Regions from separate parts of the Homo sapiens genome. Here regions 1 and 2 are each linked to region 3. Evidence: fine-mapped QTL for protein levels in blood plasma. Region 3 holds a variant in brackets. A gene starts in each other region. All regions are shown on their forward strands.

Region 1 (5,463 bases), not on the chromosome of region 3:
AAGCTTGTTAAAAATTCAGCATCTCAGGTCCTACTGCAGATCTGCTGAACCAGAATATGCACTTTAGCAAAATTTCTAAGTCAGTCCTGTGCATATTGAGTCTAAGAAATGGACTTAGAATGAAGACAATGCAAGTCTCAAGTGCGATAGGAGGATTGAGATCACCTCTGACAGGTGCTACATTGCTTCCCCCACACATTCACACATACACGTGCATACACACATATACAACGCACACACACTTTTCACTTACTTGCTTCTGAGGTGTCAGTGGCTGCAGTTGTGATGAACCAAGAGGCCACCACCACCATCAGCATCCAAGTCAGAGATGGCTGCCCCATCCTTTCTGCTCTTCCCGCTACTTCAGGTCTAGATAGCACCTGCCCAAAGGAAAGACGGGTTGGCCCTTTGAATTTTTCTCTCTGTCTCTGATGTCTGGTGTCCTGTGAACAGAGATGGATGGGACAAATGCATGATCTAACTCTCCTCCCCACAGCTGGAAGGAGTGCTTTGATTGTATAGTATACAACTCCAGGAGGTGTCACTTATATGGACTAAAAAATTGCATAACACTGCAGCCCTTGTTTTGCTGGGACTTTACCCCTTGTACTCCCCCTCCTTACCTCACCAACATCCCAGTCTTGGCTCCCCAATTCTCAGCACATTGCACATTTTGAAGAACTCAGTCATTTGGAGCAGGAAGTAGCCAGATGGAATAGTGTTCTGGACTCACCACTTTACTGAAGGCAGCTTTGGATTTTAACTGATCCTCTGCCTGGAAACTTTCAATTTGCCTGGATCACTTATTCATTCAACAAACATCTATTGAGTAGCTACATTGTGCCAAACAGGGAGCTAGTCACCATGGAGAACAATGAACATGGCAGTCTGCTCCTTCATGCAACTCACATATCGTAAAGAAGTGGCTTGAGACGAGCAACTTGAGAGGTAATTAACCTTCACAATGCATTTAAATGTTTCTGGAGTGGTCACTTACTATTTCTTCCAATTGGAAAAATAGTCCAGGGTGGATGCCAGTATTACCCCAGTGTTTATAGCAGCAAAATAGGGTGGCATGTTGGTTAAGTATGTAGGAGCTGCAGCCTGCACCTGAGGTTCAAATCCCTGCTTTACTGATCACTAACACTGTGATGTGGGTATTTCAGTTTACTAAGTCTCCGTTTTTGTCTGTGAAATGGAGATTGTTGCTTTCACAAACTGAATATCTATGATGGGCCAGGCTCAGTTCAAAGACATTCATGTGCTCAAAGGCATTGGGTCCTAGAGCAACGTTTTCCAGATCTTCGTGACCATGATGTACTAAAAGAAAAACATTTTATGTTGCCAGGTGCAGTGGCTCATGCCTGTAATCCCAACACTTTGGGAGACTGAGGGGGTGGATCACAAGGTCAGGAGTTTGAGACCAGCCTGGCCAGCATGGTGAAACCCCATCTCTAATAAAAATACAAAAATTAGCCGGGCATGGTGGTGGGCGCCTGTAATCCCAGCTACTCGGGAGGCTGAGACAGGAGGATTGCTTGAACCTGGGAGGCAGAGGTTGCAGTGAGCTGAGATCGTGCCACTGCACTCCTGCCTGGGTGACAGAGAGTCCATCCCCCCCCCCCAAAAAAAAAAAGACAGAAAGAAAGAAAAACATTTTATGTCATGATCTAGTGCAGTCGCTTCTGCATGTATGTGCACACACACATAAAATTTTATAAGACAATTGATATCCTTACTACATTAAGTGATTTAATTCTTACCACAACCCTATGAGATAAGTATTATCCTAGTTTGCAGATGAGAAAACAGGGGGACAAAGAGGCTAACTGCTTGCCTCAAATTTGTATTGCTTACTGACATATTCTATTATATTTAATTAAAAGAAGTCCCTGGATATAACCCACAAAAGGAATGATTTTATGACCCGCTAATAAGATGCGACCTAAAACACTGCATATTGTCACTGGGATTAACTAAGATGACATATGTCGAGCAGGGCCCAGCACATAGCAAGTTGTTCATTGTTGTAACCCTGGTACCTGGCACATAATAGGTGCATAACTAATATTCATGGAATAAGTCAAAAAATAGTAGTCATTGTTACTAGGACAGAGAGGATCAAAGAGAGGAAAACTAACTTACTAAAGATCATGAAGCCAATAATTGGCAGAATAATGACTCAAATCCAGGTCTGACCCCAGTGTCCAAGGTCTTAATTTCCTCTCCTACCTCCCTCAAATAGGATGGGGAGAAGCTGGGCTAGGAGAAGACAGCTACAGATAGCCTTACCTGAAGCCAGAAAGGTAGAGTTAGTCTGGTCATGATGTGCCTCATACTTATATATACACATTTGCCCCAGGCTGGCAATCTCTCCTCCAATTAGTCTCTAGTTCTGTTTTTTGATATTGTTTTCTTGGGGGTGGAATATTTTTTCCTCCTGGCATAATGTTTGCCTTGTCCAAGCTGTGAGGTTGTTGTTGTTCTTTTTCCTAATAGCTAGAGACCCCAAATGATTGACATTGGGGGGTCACACCTGTGCCCGGAAATACAAGGTCACTGTTTCGCACCTTCTAACAGCAAGAGATTCCATAGTTAGAAATTAACTGGGAAAGCAGTGCCAAGGTGCTGGGCTTCTTCTTGGTCACTGACAAGGGCAGGGTGGGATCAAGGAGCCAGGCAGAAGCCAGTATCTGAAGCCAGGCTGCATAAGGACAAAAGGGATATTCACTGCCCCAGATGGGAGGTGCACCTGTCTTGGAGAGGGCACCCTTCTGAAACACCCATTCTCATGAGATCAGCCTTAGAATCCAGACACAAGCAAGAGAGGAGCTGAGAATGGCTGAAAGTCAGAACCAGAAGGTAGTTCAGACATCACTGGACCTGACCCACTCTGTACAACAAAGAATCAGGTCTGATGACTGGGAGGTCCCTTTGGAGGCGAAATAAATTTGCACTTAAATAGACTGACTTTGGAGTCAGTCTGCCTCCTTTATCTGGTGTTTATTGTGTGGCAGTGGGCTCATTTCTTAACCTTCCTGAGGTCCAGAGGTCAATTTCCTTGTCTATAAAATGAGAATACCCATCTCCCACAGTAGTAATAGTAACCAAAGGAGATGATGCAAGTAAAGTCATATAGTAATGATTATATTCATGGAAGTAGTGAAAATTCTGCTTTGCTGTTGTGCAATCACTGAGGTAGAAAATGACAGAGCCTGAGTTAAAACCATGTCTTCAGACCCAGTTCAACATACATGACATTCCAAAAGTCAGTGTGAGAGTGGCTGTCATCATGTTGAGAAAAATAAAATATGTGTGAACTTGGGCTGAGCAGGAAAATATCACCATGATCACTGCATTGATCTTTTTTTTTTTTATACTTTAAGTTTTAGGGTACAAGTGCACAACGTGCAGGTTTGTTACATATGTATACATGTGCCATGTTGATGTGCTGCACCCATTAACTTGTCATTTACATTAGGTATAACTCCTAATGCTATCCCTCCCCGCTCCCCGCATCCCACAATAGGCCCCTGGGTGTGATGTTCCCCTTCCTGTGTCCAAGTGCTCTCATTGTTCAATTCCCACCTGTGAGTGAGAACATGCGGTGTTTGGTTTTTTGTCCTTGCGATAGTTTGCTGAGAATGATGGTTTCCATCTTCATCCATGTCCCTACAAAGGACATGAACTCATATTTTTTATGGCTGCATAGTATTCCACGGTGTATATGTGCCACATTTTCTTAATCCAGTCTATCATTGATGGACATTTGAGTTGGTTCCAAGTCTTTGCTATTGTGAATTGCTCTTTTCAGGACATTTCTCCATCCTGTCCCACTCAGTGGTAGGGTAACCACTGGCACTGGTGTTGTCATCTCCTCAGGATTATGTCCAAGGAGTGGAAATTCTGGGTCAAAGAGGTAGCACAGCTGTAGGAATATTGACTCCTCTTCCCAAACAGCACCCCAGAGAATTATTATAAATTGGTTTACAATCCCACCAACACTACTCACCAGTTCTGAGCATTGGTAACTTGCTTTCATCTTTGCCAAAAGGATAAGTGGAAACGATCTCATTATTGTTCATTTTTGCAATTCTTTGATGAAAAGGGAAGTTATCTCTTCATTTATTTACTTTTTTTTTTCTGAACTAGTCGTTTTTATCCTATACCTTTTTCATGAGGCCTTGTCTAAACCTTATTATGGGTGTCTTCAAAGGATTAAAGACAGTGACCCCAGGTGGCTTCTGGAGTTTTCTTGACAAAGACTTGGGCAGGAAAATGGGGAGTTTGGGTTGGAATCTATTCATAAGTGTAATCACCATGCTTTCTAGTTTCTGTATTTGGTGCTTGTACATTTTGGGGCCTTACTGATCATGGAGGGACTGCCCCTCCCAGGGCTCAATAATTACTAGAGATCAAAAACGACTTATCTGTGAATGTGCCTTTCCGACTGCAAATCAATCAATCCAGACCACATACCCCCAACCCTTGGCCTCCTTTTTGGGGCTTTTACACTTAGGGTCACTACTTGCTGCTTTAGATCACCCCAAGGGACCAGGTACCAGACAACTAGAGACAACTCCTATGGCCCAGAGGTCTCTGAAATTATTCAAACTAAGCCAATCCTAAATCTGCTTACCTTGCCTCTCCCATTCCTTCCTGCAGAAACTACAATAAAGGCTCTTTCCTGCCTTTTCCCTTGCTCTCTTTGCTTCCTGACCGACCCTGGTACTTCCCAGCAGCTCTTCCTCTCCCTTCAGCCCCTCTGCCCAGTGTGGTGTGTCCCCTTCTCTTGGGATCTGTGAGTATAACAAGTTGTCAGTGGCCATAATTTCCTGCTCTGTTGCTCATCAAGTTCACCAAAGACATCCATGTTACCAAATTCAATCAATATTTTTCTCTTTATCTTACCTCTAGGACAGTGCACAATAAATATTTGTTTTTGAACGAACCTTAATCTCTCAGCACTTCGCTCTTGAAACACTCTTCTTTCTTTCTTTCTTTTTCTTCTTCTTTTTTTTTTTTTTAATGGAGTCTTGCTCTGTCACCCAGGTTGGAGTGCAGTGGCTCAGTCTTGGCTCACTGCAACCTCCACCTCCCAAGTTCAAGTGATTCTCTTGAATCCTTGAATCCTCAGCCTCCCGAGTAGCTGGGATTACAGGTGCATACCACCATGCCCGGCTAATTTGTGTTTTTTTTGTACACATTGGCCAGGCTGGTCTCGAACTCCTGACCTCAGGTAATCTGCCTGCCTCGGCCTCCCAAAGTGCTGGGATTACAGACATGAGCCACCACAACCAGCCTGAAACACTTTTCTCTCTTAACTTTCAAACATGGGTAGGAGACTTGATCTTAATAATGCTGAGAACAATCACCCACTGAGCACTTCTCTTGGGTCAGACACTGTGCTCAGTGCTTTTGCCTCCATTGTCTCAAACAATGAAACACAACAACCCACGTCAC
Region 2 (5,436 bases), not on the chromosome of region 3:
CAGACCCAAAGTCCTGTCGCCGGCTTCATTTTTTGGAAGTCTCAGATCCCGTGCTGACAATTACATGTCCAAATGGCATATCCCCCTTTCGGGCACGCGGAGGAGATCCCCCAGCCGGGCGCGCGTGGGGGTGCGAGGGGGGCGGGCGCGGCGCGCGCGGTGTGGCGACTCCCAGGGCGGGCGACCGAGTCCGCGCCCGCGGGTCCAGGGCCGGGGCCCGAGGAGGGGGCGAGTGTGAGCGCGTGTGTGCGCGTGTGGGAGTGTGCTCGGTGTGTGCGCTTGGCGCTCTGGGCCGGACTGTGCAGCTATTTCCCCGCGTGAGCCTTCGCTTGCTCGCTCCCTCCTCACTTTCTCTCTCTCTCACTGGTTGGTCAACAATAAAAAAGGAAGGGGGGCGAAAGGTTTCCAAAAAAAGTTGATTGCAAAGAGGCGGTAGGTTTCCGGCCTCTCCCCGCAGCCGGGCTATGTTCTGCTCCTTCTTCAGTTTCCTTGCACCTCCAGTCCAAATCGGGAGGGGAGCGGGGCGGGGGGAGCTTCTCGCTTCTCCCCGGATCCCGTCCTTCTTTTTCCTCTCAGCTTTCCTCACACTTGTCCGGCGGCTGCGGTAATTAAAGCTCCGAGCGTCATTTCCAGCGCTCCGCGGTCTCCAGCTGCAGCCCACAGAGAAATTAATAAGACTCCAGAAAAAAAAAAAAAAAAGGTGCGGGGGGCGGTGGGAATAAAACAACCCTCCACGCAACCAGGCCGGCTCTGCTCAGCCGCGCAAACCCCGCCCATGCTCTGACCCAACTAGCCACGCCCTTCCCCCCCCCTTCCAAAGGGAAATCTTATTGGCTCAGCCACTCCCCAAAATCCTGGGCCTCCGGAGTTGGGAAAACACCTGTCAGGGAAAGGGAGCCTCTTGGTGGGGGCAGGGGAAGCTGGATTTAAAGGGCTCACCGAAGCCATGCACTGAAGCACTCGTCTTCCCTCCCTGGCAGAGGCCTGGGACAGCTGGCCTGCTGAGTGGACGGACCATTGGAGGGCCGCTTACGGAAATTTTTTTTTTTTTTAAACAAGAAAGTCAGCATTTTCTCCGTTGCCCCACGGTGCTCATCTACAGACAAGACTTTCCCTAGAAATAAAAGTCAATGTTGCTTTCAGCAAAAAGCCTCCGCCCGCAGTACTCTGCCACTCATGGTCCACAATTAGAAAGTACTTTAAAAGTGTGTACAGCAAGTAACTGGTAGCCCCTGAGGATTAGGTAGTGGTAGGGGTATAATCACCGCCCCGCCTCCCGCCCCCAGTTATGCCATCTCTCCGATTACTCCCACATTTCTAAACTGACCAACATTGAGCCAAACTAAACTTTCACATTTATAAAGGCATATCCTTTGATTTTTAGATTTTATGTTTTTTTTTCACCTTTGGAGTTCATTCTTATTAAGCAGATTCTAGTCCAAAGCCACTGATTTGATCTTAAAGGGCTAGAAATTGTCCCCAGCCTGAAAGAATTTAAGGAGGCCACATCAGAACATAATTAACCTTAAATGATTCTGTTTATTCTACAGTAGACCCAGCTTTAGGCCCCTTCCTTGTCCTCACTCTGCACATTCATGGTCCCTAATCTGGAGGTCATTGCTAGTTACGAAAGTCTCTGACCTTTTCTGAATCTAAAATATTCTGGGACTGGGTCATTTCAATGTACATATCCCTTGCCTTTTACAGCTCTGAAACCGCACCCTGGCAAGGGCCAGAATCTGCTGGGGGTAGTTATTGGTTTGCTATTTGTACAGGCATTCTATGTATGAATCACTTTCCTTTTTTGGTTTTTCTAGAAGCAGCAAATATATAAATAAAAAGTATCAGGGGAGCTTAAAAATCAAACCACCCTGCCTTTCATTTGAGACCTTGATCTCCATTTCCCACTCTCTTATCTATAGCCCCATCCCTTAAGAATTTCCATGGAGCTGAGAACAGATAGGAGGTACAGATGCCTGAAGCCTGAAGCTTTCCCTTTCTTAGACCCACAGCAAATAACAGGCTCCATGAAGACGCCCAACAAGCTGAGCGTGCGGTTTTACCAGAAGCAGCCTAGGGCAGAGAGGAACTAAGCCTAGAGCAGATGACGGAGACTTGACCAGAATGGTACTGATTGCAGCAAAACTGTGCACACTGCTCTTTGGGATTATCTTTGTTTTCTTTTCTTTTCTTTTTTTTAATTACTCTTTCTCTCTGTTTTCTCTTCTTTCATTCAATCTCTTCTCATTCCCCTTGTCTTAAATCCTTTTGAAATTCTCAGGCACCTCTCTTCCATAAAAGCTACTTCTTTTCAAAACTTACTTTCTGTCCCTAGAATGACAATTTAAATGAGAAAAACATCTTCCTTTTGTAAAAGTTTAAGTCTCTGTAGTAAAAAAAAAAAAAAAGTCTGGTTTCTGATGGCAATTATGTTGCACGAAGTGAAGGAATGGGCCAGGTGTGGTGGCTCATGCTTGTAATTCTAGCATTTTGGGAGGCTGAAGTGGGAGGATCCCTTGAGGCCAGAAGTTCCAGACCAACCTGGGCAACATAGTGAGACCTCAACTCTACCTTTTTTTTTTTTTTTTTTTAATGAGCTGGGTATGGTGGTGCACACCTGTAGTCTTAGCTATTGGGAGGCTGAGATGGGATAGAATTGCTTGAGCCCAGGAGTTAATAGTTACAGTGAGCTATGATCATGCCACTGCACTCCAACCTGGGAGATAGAGCAAGACCCTATCTCTGAAAAAAAAAAAGAGAGAAAAAGAAAAAGAAAAAAAAGACAAAGTGAATAAATGAGTTGCATATTTTCGCTTAAATTGTAGGGCAAAAACTTCATGGCCTGAATATTTTGGATTTTTTTATAGTTGTGCCAATTATGTTAGTTTTTGTTCCCCTGTCAATTTTATAGCTTTTCTATAACAGAATATCTTCTATATGCCCTGCTCTCACCCATATCTTCTAGAATAATTCTTGACAAAGGAGGATTTTCCATTAATATTCATTGGTTTAAAAAAACACTTAGTATATATTTTTGTGGATATTAAACAGCCCATACAAGGATTCACCTATTACATTACCCAACATACCCACAGTTTCCCTCTAATTCTGTTTGTTCTGCCTTGATCCCCATTTTACTCATTCTAACATTGAAACAACAATTTTAGATATGTGGCCACAGATGGGTATCTGAACAGCAGCCTATAAAATGATTTGACATCAAAGCTTTTGCCAAAAAAAGCATGATATATTTGATGGTGCCTTGTCTACCCAATCAGATTCCAGCTCAGATAATTTGAAATGTAGACAGGAAGGTAGTACCCTGTATGGGCAAGCCAAAGGATGAGAAAGAAGCCATGAGCTCAAGTCAAGAATCAGTTATTTCAGTGTCTACCCTCATTTGCTTCCCATCTCATCTAAGTCATTATAAGAAACAAATACCAGAGTAGGGAATATTTACTAGCTGATGTAGAAAGGACATGATACTTGGATTGTTAGAGGCCAAGATGAATCTCTGTATTTCTTTACTTTTCCATATAGCTTGATAATAAATCCCTATTAGGGGACCTAACTAGAATGTGTTGCTGTTACTCAGAACCTGCATAAAAATTATGTGGGTAACACAATGTGTTACTTAGCAAGCCACGGATGAATACCTGGAATTACCTGCTGAGTGCCCATTTTCCAGAAACAGCCCTTTCCTCAGTTCTACATGTTTAACTTGGATCTACCTCCGTGCTACAACAACTCCCACTCCCTGGCTCTAAGTTGGATCACTCAAAACACCAAGTTGAACCAAGTAAAATGCCTTGCTCACTGTTAATTGGATGGGACTTCCACTGAGTCCTTTATCTGGCAGTTTTTGTAAATGAAATAAAGAGTTTATATCCAGTCTTTCATGGATAGCTTTTGAGATCTAAAACTCCACATCTAGTTTTTCTTTCCTTCTATATAGGAATAACCAGGCCGTGGTAAGAATGAAGCTACTGTTTGAAAGAATCAAAATCTCAGATGGATCTGGAGAATATTCAAGCTCTTCCTGTGGGTTAGTTGTTCATGTCCCCTTTTGCCTTAAGCTAGTTCAATTTTCATTGTTGTTACCTGAAACTAGAACAGTGTGAAATGGGACTAGAACTTCTCCAACTTGAGAGAGATCATAGAGGTCATTATGCCCTTGAGAACAATATCTTGCTATGGCCCATATTCTTTTGTTTTCCTTCCAGATCTCTCACACTTTCCCTTGGTTGAAGCTGTAACCCCAATATAGAGATGGCTTTGTCCTGTGATGCTCTTTCATATCCCCTTCTCCTCTTCATTTCTTCCATTATTAACAGAATTCAAGGAGAGTCTTGACATAATGAGTGACAGAATGCTGCTGTTTGGAGAAAGGAACACATTGAACTCAGAATTCAGTGTAAAATTATTATACATCCCTGACTTTGTCCCAGAGTCTTATAGTTCATTCCAATCTTCAGCTTGTTTCTAAGACTTCCCTAAAGGTCATATTAGAGCTTGCTGCTGTAAATATTTTGCGATCGGCCATAAATATAAATTTGTGACAAATGTCAAGTAAGAAAAGTAAACAAGACTCTATTACAAACCAGTTATCTTCTCAACATTTAAAAATATATAATTATAATTTCACTTCTTGTGCCTTATCTTCCTCCTCATCTTTCTAAGTCATCTTGTGATCATGAGCAATTCAATTCATATACTGTGCCCATTTCCTCACCTTTAAAGGAAGGGCTTGTTACATCCCAAATCTAATACTTTATGACTCTCTGATTTACTCTTCACCTACTAAGTGCTTGTCAAAATTCCCATATACTTTAATTTTCTCTTACATTCCTTCTTCTTTACTCCCACTCACCCCCACACACATCTTCATCTGGGACACCAGATGAACACACCTTAAACTATCATTCTTAGCTCAGGCTGCTATATCAAATACCATTGACTGGGTGGCTTAAACAGCAAACATTTATTTCTCACAATTCTGGAGGCTGAGAAGTCCAAGATCAAGCTGCTAGCTGATTTGGTTCCTGGAGAGGACCCTCTTCTCGTTTGCAGATGGGCTCCTTCTTGCTATATCTTCACATGGCAGAGAGAGCCAGAGAGAGAGAGAGAGAATGAGATTCACTCCCCTGTTTCTTCTTTGTTTAAGATCACTAATCCGATTCGTGAAGGTTCCACCCTCATGATATAATTAGCCAAAACCCTATGTCCAAATACTATCAGATGGAGGATTAGGACTTCAAGATGTGAATTTGGGGATACACAAATATTCAGTTCATAGCAAGGCCTTAGGAAAATGTGCAGATAAGCTCACTTCTGTATTACTGAGAATTGATCAACAATTGGGCTCTTTACCACTCTTTCAGCCAAGGAGAAACTGGTAAATACCAACCAGGCTCGGCATTATGATAATCAAGCAGA
Region 3 (5,463 bases):
TCTTCTGAACTTGGCTGCTTCTATTCATTCACGCATACATACATTTTACTGTCAGGAGCACCTTCTATATGCCAAACACTAAGCTACGTGTTTCACGTAGGTCATTTCACAGGATCCTGAAAACAACGCTTTCCTTAATATCTCCATTTTGCAGAAGAGGAAAGGGAGGCTCACAGGATGTGGAACTCACCCAAGAAGGCACAGCGAGTTGGTCATAAAGATTTGAATTCACTCTGGCTGGCACTCCCTTCAATTGGAGCTCTTTGTACTGAGCAAAAATGCCTCAGGGGCAGCAGGGAAGGGAATGACAGTATCAGCAGAAGGGAGCCAGGATCAGGACAGGGAGGAAGCAGTGTTTGGAAGAAGGGTGCTGGGGACAGGGTGCGGATGTAACTTCCCTTTCCAAGGTTGGTGATGTGGGGTAGGCACCTCATTTGGAGACAGAACTCTGGGCCTGGGCTTCAGGCACTTTAAGTGTGCACTGGACTTTGTGTTCCCAGAGGACCCCCAAACCTTCCAGTATCTCCTTCCTTTCCCCTTTCCCACCCAGCACACAGCCTGGTGCCTAGTGTGCACTCAGTAGACAACTGGGATATGACTATTGCCTCTGGTAGTCACATCCTCTCTTTGGGCTATGGGAGGCTGGACTGGAGGCCTTAAAGGCCCCTTCCGCCCTCCTGTTGGGCAGTTTTTCTTTCTTAGGGAAATCGCCTTGGGGCTATCGGGGATGGTCAGTACGCAGCTTGGTTAATCCTCTTTCCTTCCCCAGCAGCCCCACCGTCGTCCGGGTGAAAAGAAAGAACCTCGCTCCCTTCACCATCCAGGCTGAGGCTTCAGTCTTTCAGCCTGCAGCTTGGGGTGGAAGCCTCTGGGTGCAGGGGTTCGAGGACGCTCCTCTCCTTCTGTATTTGCCATTTGAGAGCGCCCAGTAGGAGTCATGCCTCAATGTTAGGAGGTTAATGCCAAACGCAGTGAAAGATTTTGTTCTTTCCTATTCTAGATAAGAGCAACACGAGTCTTCGGAGAGGTTAAGCGACTTCCTCAGGGTCTCGCAGTCAGCCGGTAGCAGAGACCGGGTGTACAGCACCCGCATGTTAGGACCAAAAGCCGGACACTGCTGGATTGACCCCTCGCGGCCAAGCGGGGAAGAGGCATTTAGGGGTCCTTGCGCAGCCGCGTGGCCCCTCCCACTCGGCCCTCGATCCACCCTCCTTGAGAGCAGGCAGGATTCTAGCATCACCCAGTGCCTTCATCAAGAGTCTTTAACCCCAAGCCCGCTCGCTAGCGACCTCCAGGCCGGTTTGGGGCGCGGTGTGGCCGGTGGCGAGAGGTGGAGTGGGGGCGGAGACCGACCCAGTCTTCGCAACTCTATTTGCATACGGAGGCGACTCGCTTCCTTCCCGCCCCTCCGCCGCGCTCTTCTTCCTTCCTTCTCCAGTCCCTTCCACTGTGCGTCTTCTGTCCCCCGTTCTTCCCCAGCGGACCCCTCTTTCGAGACTCCCTAGTGGGGTCCCCAGCTCCCGGGCGATCCTGCCCTTGCCGAGCGCGTTTTCTGGAGTCACCTGGGGGAGGGGAGTCCTGGGCAGGGCCGGGCTGGGGAAGACGCCTGGGGCACTGCCCGGCGTTAACAAAGGGAGCCGATACCGACCGGCGTGGGCGCGGAGCGGGCGGCCGCCACCGAGCGTGCTGAGCAACCGCAGCCTCCGCGGCCGAGAGTGCAGCGAGTGAGTAGGGGGTGCGGTGGGCGGCGGCGCGGCCCGGGCTATCCCGGGAGGAGTGTGATGCAAAGGGGCGCGGGAGGATAGCGGAGGCGCGGGGCCCGCGGCGCGCGTAGGGCGCAGGGAATCTCTCTCCAGCTCCGCCTCAGCTGCCTTGGCTCCGGGGCTGGCCGCCTTTTGGTTGGGGGTGTGTGCATTTTTGTCAGGGCCAAAGGGCCACCCTGGCTTCTCTCTGGCTCCGCGAGCCTGCGGATCCACAACAAACCCACGTGCGCACAGCCCCGGGGAACACGGATTTCTCCACGGCACCGTCAGTATGGGGTGGGGTGGCGTGGGGGCATTGCGCCTTGCAGAGTCTGGGTTTACGGATCGACAAATTGAGGCCCGCGGCAGCGGAGGGGGCACAGGCACCATAACAAACGCACGTGCGCCCTGCCCGGAGAGCTGGACGCACTGCATACCCTTAGGGGCCGCCCTGCGGTGCCGGGCCATTGTCTCAGCCTCGGGGGAGGGAGTGGCTCTAGAGGCGCCACTTGCTGGAAGAGGGCGAGAGAGACATTTAAAAGGTACCGCTTGGGCATCAGACTAAACTGCCAGACTTAAAAAGGGAAACCAAAACAAGAAAGCAGCTACAAAAAGGTTACTCCAGGCTGAGTCGGTCCCCGGCCGTGGCGCATTCTTTTGGGTGAAGTGGACCACCCCTCACCTTCACCTCCTGGAGGTCTCTTAGAGATGTGGGTTGGGTTAAGGGTCTAAGGGTGCCCCTCAAAAAAAGAGAGTGCTGGGTGCACTATTGTCCCCGCACTCCGGCGATTGCCTCTGTGGGGATATTTTGGTCGCCTCCTCAGCCTGCGGGAAGAATGTACGAGTCGCCCAGTGCGGTCTTGCTCTTTGCCTCTGAGGCCCGTGTCCGTGTGCCCAGACACCCCAGATGTCACTAGCCCCTTTTGGCTTGTTAATGCATTTTCGCAAGCAAGGCCAGCCGAGACCTCGTATTCTAGCTGGGGACGTACAATTTTCAGTTCTGAGTTTATTTGAAAGAAATTCCGAGGTCCGGAAAAAGAGAACTCTTGTTTGTTTTGCTTTTTCTTTGCTTACATATGCTCAGCTCAGCTTTGCAGATGTTAATCGGACACGATCTGCAGCGGGGAGATGGTTTCGCGGTGAATTGGTCTCTGAGGCGATGGTGTTGGTGCAGGTTGTGGGCGTGCAGTGTGAGCAGGAATGGAGGCGCCGCCGCCCCAGTGTGTGCCTGCTGAGCGGGCGGGCTGCTGCCTCACCTTGGCTAGTGTGGCTGAAGATTAACCTGTCCC[CG/C]GGGGGGGAACTGGAGAGCCTCCAATCCTATTCCGCTGTTATTGAAAAGGTCTAGAGAGCATCTAGGGAGCCTTCTCATTTTACAGGCAGGAAGCTGAGGCCGGAGAGTTCAGCCACTTGTCCAAGTTTAAACCGGGTGAAACGGGCCACAGAGAGAACACTTGAGTGTGGGTCTCCCAACTCCCACTGCATCGCTCAGCGGGCAACTAAAGGCAAAACCGGGATTCTGTGATTGGCCTAAAAGGCAGTGGCCTTAGGCAGAATAGGGTGAAACAAAGAGTAATTCAAATAGAAAGCTGCACCCTTCCATTATCCCTTTCAAGAATTCTTTATTCTGTTGAGAAAAAATAGATTTAGTAATTCCTTACTCTCCTTCAAGCCTTTCAAAAGCTTAGTTATTTTTCTCTCCTGGCTGCCCCTTCCCCTCAAATTGGAATAAGGCCAGCTACGGAGACTCAGATGTTTTGCCTCTCATCCTTGTGCCAGGAGGCCTTTGTTTGGGCAAAAGCATGGGCTGTTGACATCAGCCCCACGGGGAAGAAAGTGTGTCTTAGCAAGCTACTCCTGAGCCACTTGTGGGAGAACAAAGCATTGTTTTCACTGATCTTATTAAAGTTACTTTTTTTTTAACGAGAGTCCCATGGAAGTAGCTGCTTATTTTTGTATTTGGCAGAGAAGTAGGAAAACCAAAAAAACACTGAGAAGCCGGATTTCCCCAAAGTTAACATGTTGTTTTGCACTGTGCCTGTTATCTCCTAGTTACACTTGTTTCTTTTCCTTAGAGTTTCCAGCGTGTTTCACTTTCAATGTGATTCTGGTAGCAACAGGAGGCAGCTGGATGCCTAGGCAGATAGGGTCAGGTACCCGGTGAAACCCCCACCTCCAGGCCAAAGACAGTTTAAAGCCTGAAAGCCAAGCTACGAGTTAAATCCTCAGACCAGAGTGAGAACTTGTTTGGCGTGCTTTCCCCTAATTGATTCCTACATTTCGCCTGTTTTACATATACCCACTTTTTCCTAATTGGTTTTCTACGCTGCCGTGCCCACCTTTGAGTGGTGTCTTTGCTTTCATCTTTTTTGCATACTCACAAACCGGTCAGCATGCACTCCCTATTCTGAGTCCATAAAAGGCCCCTGACCCAGCCACATTGGGGAACTTTTCCGTCTTCAGGTAGGGGACCAACCCGGTGTCCCCTCTCTGCTGAAAGCTGTTTTCAACACTCAATAAAATTCTTATCTGCCTTCCTCTCCCTTCAATGTCCAGTGTATCCTCATTATCCTTTGGTGTGGTGCACGAGCTCGGAACCACCGAACGCGGGTACAAGCTATAATACAGTGAGCTGGGACACACCTGCATGGCCGAGCGAGCACAGGTGGGGCATTGCTGGCCCGAGGACCAAGAAGAAAAATCCTACATCAATTCCTCTTGGCACTGCAGTATAGTTTTCTCACCAGGACGCTGACCCTGTAAGGAACTTCAGAAATCATGTGACTGGACCCTTTTACTTTCCAGATGGGAAAAGTGAGGCCTAGAGAAGAGAAATTGCTTGCCTAATGATACACAACAATGCGTGGTCTACTTTTAGTGCACCTTTTTGCGTAAAAGGGAAATGGTTGCATCAAACCAGTAGTTGTTGGTACTCCAGAGAAAAGCCAAAGTTATGGTTGTTATAACAACACCCTTTAAGTCAGAGAACCAATTCCTTATGGATTTAAATAGGTTTGGTTATTAAGCAAAGCCAGGGATCCCAGTAGTAGGTATGCTGAATAGTGCAATTATCTCTGGGGATCAGCTTTCTTTAGTGTTTGCTGAACGGTTCACTTTACTCTTGTGCTGGGTTCCTCCATGTCTCTGTCTTGTGCTTCCCCATTTAGGGGCTGCTTTGTATGAAATCATAAGGCAAGAGGCAGTGAGAAGACAGAAGAGAGAGGCGCCACTTAGCTGTTCATGCTACTTAACCTCTTGGGCTCCAGTTTCCTTCTTTGTACAGTGAGGGTTCTCCTTGCCCAGTCTCTGCACAGGCTGTTCCAGCGGAGCGGAAGATGCTCAGGCCATAGGAGGGGTTTGGGGTCATCTTCCTGTCTCTAGTATTACTTTAAAACCAGCAGGCTGGGCCAGGTGTGGTGGCTCACTCCAGTAATCACAGCACTTCAGGAGGCCGAGGAGGGAAGAGTTCGAATTCCTTGAGCTCAGGAGTTTGAGACCAGCCTGAGCAACATAGTGAGACTACCTCCCCCACCGCCATCTCTACAAAAAATAAAAGAACAAAATTAGCTGGGCATGGTGGCGTACTCCTGTGGTCCCAGCTACCTGGGAGGCTGAGACAGGAGAATCGCTGGAGCCTGGGAGGTGGAGGTTGCAGTGAGCCGCGATCTCACCACTGTACTCCAGCCTGGGGACATAGCGAGACCCTGTCTCAAAAACAGAAAAT

Direction of the effects. Alleles are on the strand shown, and positions count from the first base shown. The strength of an association depends on the size of the effect and on how common the allele is.
With allele C in place of CG in region 3, the plasma level of the protein whose gene starts at base 2,319 in region 1 is higher (weak association).
For the plasma level of the protein whose gene starts at base 301 in region 2, C is the high allele of the variant in region 3 and CG is the other (weak association).

The links. PIP is the chance, under the fine-mapping model, that this variant and not a neighbour inherited with it causes the effect. Protein levels are from antibody-based Olink assays in UK Biobank. Linkage for the fine-mapping came from a reference panel and not from the study's own genotypes, which makes the PIPs less certain.
Region 1: it holds the start of UMOD, and the variant in region 3 is fine-mapped to the plasma level of the UMOD protein (UK Biobank, PIP above 0.99).
Region 2: it holds the start of ERBB4, and the variant in region 3 is fine-mapped to the plasma level of the ERBB4 protein (UK Biobank, PIP above 0.99).

What each region holds. Positions count from the first base shown.
Region 1 is chr16:20,350,397-20,355,859 of GRCh38, forward strand. UMOD (uromodulin) reads right to left here and starts at 2,319. Exons shown (of 11, transcript NM_003361.4): 1 at 2,293-2,319; 2 at 254-443. The coding sequence starts at 341.
Region 2 is chr2:212,538,502-212,543,937 of GRCh38, forward strand. ERBB4 (erb-b2 receptor tyrosine kinase 4) reads right to left here and starts at 301. Exons shown (of 28, transcript NM_005235.3): 1 at 1-301. The coding sequence starts at 29.
Region 3 is chr3:186,929,111-186,934,573 of GRCh38, forward strand. It overlaps ST6GAL1 (ST6 beta-galactoside alpha-2,6-sialyltransferase 1), which reads left to right and starts at 1,416. Exons shown (of 8, transcript NM_173216.2): 1 at 1,416-1,724. RefSeq lists enhancers at 1,031-1,639, 3,733-3,782, 3,803-3,862 and silencers at 1,327-1,406, 1,647-1,836. The variant CG/C (reference allele first, on the strand shown) is at 3,032.